2 linked regions of the Homo sapiens genome follow. The protein of the gene in region 2 purifies or fractionates together with the protein of the main gene of each other region. This does not show direct contact. Each region holds a gene or a part of one and is shown on either strand. Other genes may lie near its edges.

Evidence for each region.
Region 1: the proteins of ZNF618 (region 2) and GAPVD1 purify together in Homo sapiens (affinity purification with mass spectrometry, with the first as the bait; one large-scale study listed by BioGRID). This does not show direct contact.

Annotation. Positions count from the first base shown.
Region 1 is NC_000009.12:125,303,326-125,306,825, reverse strand, and holds part of GAPVD1 (GTPase-activating protein and VPS9 domain-containing protein 1), read right to left. Parts: intron 1,764-3,500; coding exon 1,677-1,763; intron 1-1,676. UniProt on the Homo sapiens protein: Acts both as a GTPase-activating protein (GAP) and a guanine nucleotide exchange factor (GEF), and participates in various processes such as endocytosis, insulin receptor internalization or LC2A4/GLUT4 trafficking.
Region 2 is NC_000009.12:113,882,537-113,886,559, reverse strand, and holds part of ZNF618 (zinc finger protein 618), read right to left. Parts: intron 1-4,023. UniProt on the Homo sapiens protein: Regulates UHRF2 function as a specific 5-hydroxymethylcytosine (5hmC) reader by regulating its chromatin localization.

The sequences.
Region 1 (3,500 bases), about 11 Mb from region 2:
CTCTTTTTGTACTGATATAGTCTAAGATCTTGGAGCTGGGTGTGGTAGTGCATGCCTGCAATCCCAGCACTTTGGGAGGCCAAGGTGGGTGGACTGCTTGAGCTCGGAAGTTCAAAACCACTTGGGGCAACAGGGCAAAACCTTGTCTCTATGAAAAATACCAAAATTAGCCAGGTGTGGTGGCGCGCACCTGCAGTCCCAGCTACTTGGGAAGCTGAGGTGGGAGGACTGCTTGCGCCAGGGAGGTCGAGGCTGCAGTGAGCTGAGATGGCATCACTGGGTGACAAAGTGAGACCCTGTCTCAAAAAAAAAAGAAAATAACAATAAGATGTTGGAGACAAACATAACACAACACAGAACAGTATACACATTGTGCTACTATTTCTGAAAGGGAAAGGAAGGGATGGTTGGAAGTATATAGTGTACGTAGGAATTTGCCTGTAAACATATGGACCTCTAGAAGGAAAAACAACCTAATAACATCAAGAATCTTTTGGGGGCCAGGCGTGGTGGCTCACGCCTATAATCCCAGCTACTCGGAGGCTGAGGCAGGAGAATTGCTTGAACCTGGGAGGCAGAGTTAACAGTGAGCCGAGATCACGCCACTGCACTCCAGCCTGGGTGACAACAGCGAACCTCTGTGACAAGAAGGAAACTCTGTCTCAAAAAAAAAAAGAATGTTTTGTGGGGGCAGGGAATGAAGACTAGAGATGAGACGTGGAAGGGAAATTTTACTCAAATATCCTTGAATTTTCATTGGTTGAATGTACAGCTTAATCAAAGTAAGACTGATTAAAATTTTATTTAACTATATTAATTGAACAATGTCATAGATGTTAACTTATAAACTACACTTAAAATTAAACAATTATCGACCAGGCATGGTGGCTGACATCTGTAATCCTAGCACGCTGGAATGCTGAGGCAGGAGGATCACTTGAGGCCAGGAGTCAAGACCAGTCTGGGCAACATAACAAGACCTCGTCTCTATAACAATAAAAACACTTAGCCGGGCATGGTGGTGTGCCCCTATAGCCCAGGTACTTGGGAGGCTAAGGTGCAAGGACTGCATGAGCCCAGGAGTTTGAGCCATGATCACACCACTGCACTCCAGCCTGGGCAACAGAGTGAGACACTGACTCGAAAATTTAAAAGTTGGCCAGGCGCGGTGGCTCACGCCTGTAATCCTAGCACTTTGGGAGGCCGAGGCAGGTGGATCACGAGGCCATGAGTTCAAGACCAGCCTGGCCAAGAAGGTGAAACCCCGTCTCTACTAAAAATACAAAAATTAGCCGGGTGTAGTGGCAGGCACCTGTGATCCCAGTTACTGGGGAGGCTGAGGCAGAGAGTTGCTTGAACCCGGAGGCAGAGGTTGCAGTGAGCCAAGATCATGCCACTGCACTCCGCCTGGGCGACGGAGCGAGACTCCATCTCAAAAAAAAAAAAAAAAAAAACTTTTTAAAATAAAATAATCTTAACAGCTCTTTGATTCTCTTACGACGGCATCTCCTCAATACATCTGTGGGAATTAATCATCTTTAAATGCTGCTGATCCAATACTGTAGCTAATTAAAAGAACATTTAATTTAGATATCACCTAAGGACAAGATTTAATAAAGAGAACAGTTAGGCTCACTAATACTTCAGAATTTTCTATAAATCATATTTATTCTTACTTTGTCAAACTTTCCAAGGCTGCTCTTTGTTCGGGGATCTCCCTCTTCAGAGCCAGTCATTGCTAACTGCTGCAAAAGGCGGCCTACCTGCAACCCAAAGCAGTGGTAGGGAGACATAAGCTACAGACAGATACTCACAAATACGTCTCTATGAAAGCAAGCACGTCTATTCTGTTCTAAAAATCTGTTTCATAATACTATTCATATCACCTGACCAGGCATATGAAATAGTATCCCCCAAAAAATGTGTACCTTATGTCAGCTTTTACTATTTTTAGATTAAGAGTTAGAGAAAGTATAAATTTTTGCTTTAATTTCTCTTTAACACATAAGATATCAACATTAGGGAAAAAAAGCACAATACATTTGTTTCTGACATTGTACTTTTCATTTGTTTAGAGCTTTTTAAATTAATTTGTAAAAGCTGACTCATTCATTAAATTGCCTTAAGTTAATATTAAGAACATTACCTTATAGCGTTCACAAAGCAATCAAGGTATAATTTTTTCCCTAGATTTAAAAGCAAATGATTCCTAACATAAGCTGGTTTGATAAAGTAAATACTAATTCATAGAACAAGTACCTTACTGGCAAAATTTGTTACTGCACTCTTTTTAAAGGCTAATGATGAAAGTTATTACAACATCCTCTTCTTAATATCTGGGACAAGCCCCCTTTTTACTGATTCTGAAAATATGTAATTTGATCTCTACTGGAATGACAAAAAAAACAAACAAAAAAAACTACAAATACATTATCTACCATAAGAATAAATTTAAGTGTTTCATGGGCCAGGCACAGTAGCTTACGCCTATGATCCCAGCACTTTGAGAGGCCAAAATAGGAGGATTACCTGAGGCCAGGAGTTCAAGACCAGCCTGGACAACAAAGCAAGACCCTGTCTCTACAAAAACATTTTTTAAATGAGCGAGGTGTGCTGGTACACACCTGTAGTCCCAGCTACTCAGGAGGGTGAGGCAGAAGGGTCACTTGAGCTCAGGAGTTCAAAGGCTACAGAGAGCTAAGATGGCACCACTGTACTCCAGCCTGGGTGACAGAGTGAGACTATCTCAAAACAAACAGACAAACAAAAAAAAACCTACTGTTTCATGTCAAAAATTTTGTGCTCGCTTCAGAAGCACATATACTAAAATTGGAACTCTACAGAGAAGATTAGCATGGCACCTGTGCAAGGATGACACACAAATTTGTGAAGTGTTCCATATTATAATTTTTTTAAATTTATAAACATTAAAAAAAGTTAAAAATTTTATTTCAGGCATTTCTATACAGTGAATTGCTAAACATCCCAAGGTGATATAACTGATCATTAAAAACAGCTAATCATTTTTTCTGATTTTTTTTTTTTTTTTGAGACGGAGTTTCGCTCTTGTTGCCCAGGCTGGAGTGCAACGGTGCAATCTCAGCTCATCGCAACCTCTGTCTCCCGGGTTCAAGCAATTCTCCTGCCTCAGCCTCCCAAGTAACTGGGATTACAGGCATGTGACACCACACCTGGCTAATTTTGTATTTTTAGTAGAGATGGGGTTTCTCCATGTTGGTCAGGTTGGTCTCAAACTCTGGACATCAGGTGATCCGCCCGCCTCGGCCTCCCAAAGTGCTGGGATTACAGGCGTAAGCCACCGCACCCGGCCAATTTTTTTTTTTTTTAATAGATATGGGGCAGTTGGGGGTCTCACTATGTTGCTGAGGCTGGTCTCAAATTCCTGATGTCAAACGATCTACCCACCTTGGCCTCCCAAAGTGCTGGGATTACAGGTGAGAGCCACCACACCCAGCTTGAGCTAATCATTTTTTAACAAT
Region 2 (4,023 bases):
AAACACCCACATAAACACAATTAAATGTTTATAGTTATTTTTCCCAGTTGATGAAATTAAGGAAAAAAAAAATTCCCCAACATCCAAAAATGTCTTCGTCTATTCTTTTATTCTTTTTGAGTATTCTAAGTTCCCCGACTACATCTTCTTCGCTTGCAAAAACTCTGAGTCCAAAATAAAACAAAACACAAATTCTCTGCAAACTTTCACCTGACAAAAATTCCCACCCTTAGTCCCCCAATTTTCCACAAAAATGTTGGGACAGGCAGGAATTTGTATGGCACAGGCTCAAAGCTGAGAGGTAAGAATGGCTAGCTCCTCAGATATGCTGTCTTGGACAGTAACACATCCAGTAAGCAAGCCAAAAGCACTTTTGACTTTGAGTGCTACCAGCAAACTGCGAGCCAGGGACTTGCCAAGAGATACTCAGGCCTCCTCCACTTTGCAGGAGCCATTTCCACCCCTGGGGGAGACACCAGGTTTCATTCCTCCCTGGGTCCTCACCCAGGAACAGGGCTGACCCCTGGTAATCAAAGATTCACCCCTGACAAAGGGCTCACTTCACTAGAAAGCAATGTTTTTCCCTGTGTTTTCTATAGCAGACTGGGGGGCCAAGCATCACCTGACTCCATTTATTCGCTTTAGCTTATATAGAAAGCCTCATTCTGCTTTGTCAGCCAAAATATTTATATCACTTTTTTGTCGACTCAATACCATCCTCACCTCAGCCTTCCTCCTTTCCTTTTTAAGAAAGGAGTTGTCGCCAACATGTTTCTCCAGTTCTTTGCTGTTCATGAAGCACTTTCTAGTCCATTAACTCATACGATGCTTTCAAAAAGCCTGGAAGGGTTTAAGGATGGCCTGTCCTCCCACTAAACAGATGAACAAGTAGAGGCTGTGTCGGGGTCCCAGACCCCAAGGCCTTCCAGGGCTAGGCAGGCCACATACATGATTGAAACAGGATGAGGCTGGGGACAGATGCAAACAGGAAAGAATCTGTGAAAGACTCACAAACTCCAAACTTTCTGAACCCTGGGCTGGCAAAAAGATAAAATAACATACAAGAGAAGGGACCCACTCATCTTGTGGCCCTTAGTCTGTGACTCAGTTTACACAACTTACCCAGCATAGCACTAATAATTCGTACTAGTTATAAAAAGTAACGTGTATTTAAAAAGTAACATGTATGTCAAGAGTTTACAAAGCATTTTCAAACTTGTTATCTTATGTCATTCCTGTGAAGAATCATTACCAGCCCATTTCTCAGATGCAGAAATTAAGATACGGAAGGACTAAAGAACTTGTCTGTGGACTTGAAAGTGTGTAAGCAGCAAACCTGTCCCAAACCCAGGTCATCATCCAGGAACCCCAGGGCCTGCCTTGCCCCACTGCCACGTCACTTACACTGCTGAGAGACACCATCCAATCCAGCTGCCTAGCCACAGGCGTCTCCCCTTTGAAACCTGATCACTCCAGGATCAGGCAGAGAAGCAGGTCATCCAGCCCTGCTTTGATGACAACCCCAAGGGTATCTAATTATAACAGGGAAGGGAGGAGTCAGGATTCTCTCGCTATTTCTCAAGACCAAATTAATTTTAATTCCTTTTGATACAGTGTATACACACAGGGCAGGAAAAGCACTGGTTGAGGAGTGAAGAAATCTGAGGCTTTTAGTCCCACTTCCGCTTGTTCACTGAGGTCTTGGGTAAGTCACTCCACCTTCTTCCCAAGGCCTCAGTTTCTCTGTCTCTCTCTCTCTCTCTCTCTCTCTCTCTCTCTCTCTCTGTGTGTTTGTGTCTCGATAAGGAAGGAAAAACTGGCTTCATGTCCCATGGGGTGCGTGTGTGTGTGTGTCGATAAGGAAGGACAAACTGGCTTCATGTCCCATCTAAGCCCAACTGATGGGTAGCATTATATAATACTAAGGACTCTGAGGCCGCTGGCCATACTCAATGGAAAGGACTACCATGGTCAATTAGTGATGTCTGCCACAGGCTAGAGGATGGGGAATGGCAGCATGTATGCTACTTATTTACCATCCTTGGACTAGATGATGCACAAATAACATGCTGCAAGTGAAAAGAACTTTGCCCTTTACAAAACTTTTTTCTTACATCTCTCACAACTTTCACAAGAACCCTATGCATCATCATCTTCAATCATCATCATCAATATATTATCATCTCACCTTTACAGGTAAGGAAAATACGGTGCAAGGAAATGAAGTACTTTGGCAAACACCACAAAATGATTAACTGGTGGAGCAGAGAGGGGAGCCGTGCCTTGGCTCTCCGACTATGCTCTGCTCATTCTACCCTTGGAAATGTCAAACTGGTGCTCCGCTGTTGTCGGGCCAGCTCATGCATGTGGCTGTACTGAAGAGACCCCCCTCCCCCATTTACAGGACTTCACCTCCCTCCCACGGGCTACTTGCCCCTTTTAGAGAGGCCACAGCAAAATTACAAAACCTACACACAGACATGGCAGGAAAGTAGGACTAAGTCAGAGTTCCAGATGTTTCTTCCCAAGGTGAAGTCCTGCCTTCACTGTACAGGGCGGGGGGGGGGGGGGGGGGGGCCAAGCCCAGAGAAAAGTGAGGTAAACAGAGCATGGAGCCCCCACAGGTCATAGTCCTCCCCACCAGGAGGACAACAACACTCAATCCCAAGATGCTTTCAACTGATAGATGCACCATCGATTTTATAACAGCTTTTGGAGAAGAAATAAGAGGGAGAAAAAGTTCACTAGAAGAACAAATCTACTGTAAGGGGCATCCTGATTTCAGAAATATGGAAACGTGGGAATATGAACACTGAGGATCGATGTCTACCTTAACTTAGGATTCTATGCTTGCTTGCTGAAATTGGCCACAAAGTGTTAAAAATGACAGCATTTTATAAAACGTGCTGAAAAAAACTAAGCCAAGAAACAGAAGGTTCTGTTTTCTCCCATAAATTTTCCTTGAATCTTTGACATCTGCAAACCAAAATTCAACCAAAAATGGGGTCACATCACACATTTAGGTGCTTCAAGTTGAAGGAGCCCGTGTGCCTGGATATTCTGCAAACAGGCCCCTGGTGTTCAGTTCCAGGACACCTGGCTAAGAAGACCAGGCATAAATACAGGGCACTGCTATGCCCCATTCACCATACCTGCAAATCAGGCATCTGGGGGTCCCCCATCCACTTTAAAGAAATACTTTATACAAAAGGAGTGAGGAGGGCAGGGGTGAAAGTCATCAGACGAACATTTTAAAAATCCCCCAAGACATGTAAAGGAGCATTTCCCCAACTAAGGATCCCTGTTGGACTTATTATTCCAGGGGAGCCATGGCTTCAGAGCCAGCTGTAAGAAAATGTGCCTCGGGCTCCCTAATAAAACATTGGCTTTGACCAAATGGCCAAGCCCAAATTGGTCATCCACTCTTCACTAGACCCAAAGCCCACTGATCTGAGCTATTTCCAAAAATCAAATGAAGTCATCAAATATTTATGGAGCTGCTGCTCTGCGCCAGACCCTAAAATGAATAACCGGTGATCTCTACCCTCACAGATGTTACAAGTTGGCTGGAGAAGCAGAAATGCAAACAACCAACTCTGACCTGTGGGTCCACATTGTTTGGGAGGTACCATGGGGGCAGAGGGAGAGGAAGCCTACCTGGGGAAATTTGTTGGGGGAGCTCTACAGAAGAAGAAGTGCAGCTGATCTCGAGGAGGGTCTGGTTTCTCACGAAGCAGATATGAATGAGGGAAGGGGCACCAGAGGCAAGGGCCCCAGCATGAGCAGAAGCTCAAAGACATACAGGTCCACCCGCGATTGAGATGTATCCCTTTTAAAGCCTTGCCACAGGCTCAGAAACAAATCCAGAAACATTCCAAGGAGCTAGAGCAGCCCCGGAATGAAAGCATCCAGAATGCTTTAACAAGAAAGTCTCATGGATGGCAGGCTGTTTTAAAGCAACAGCCAAGAGTGTACATTCTCACTTGTCGCCTAACTTTGCCTGCTAACGATAAGCCACCAGGT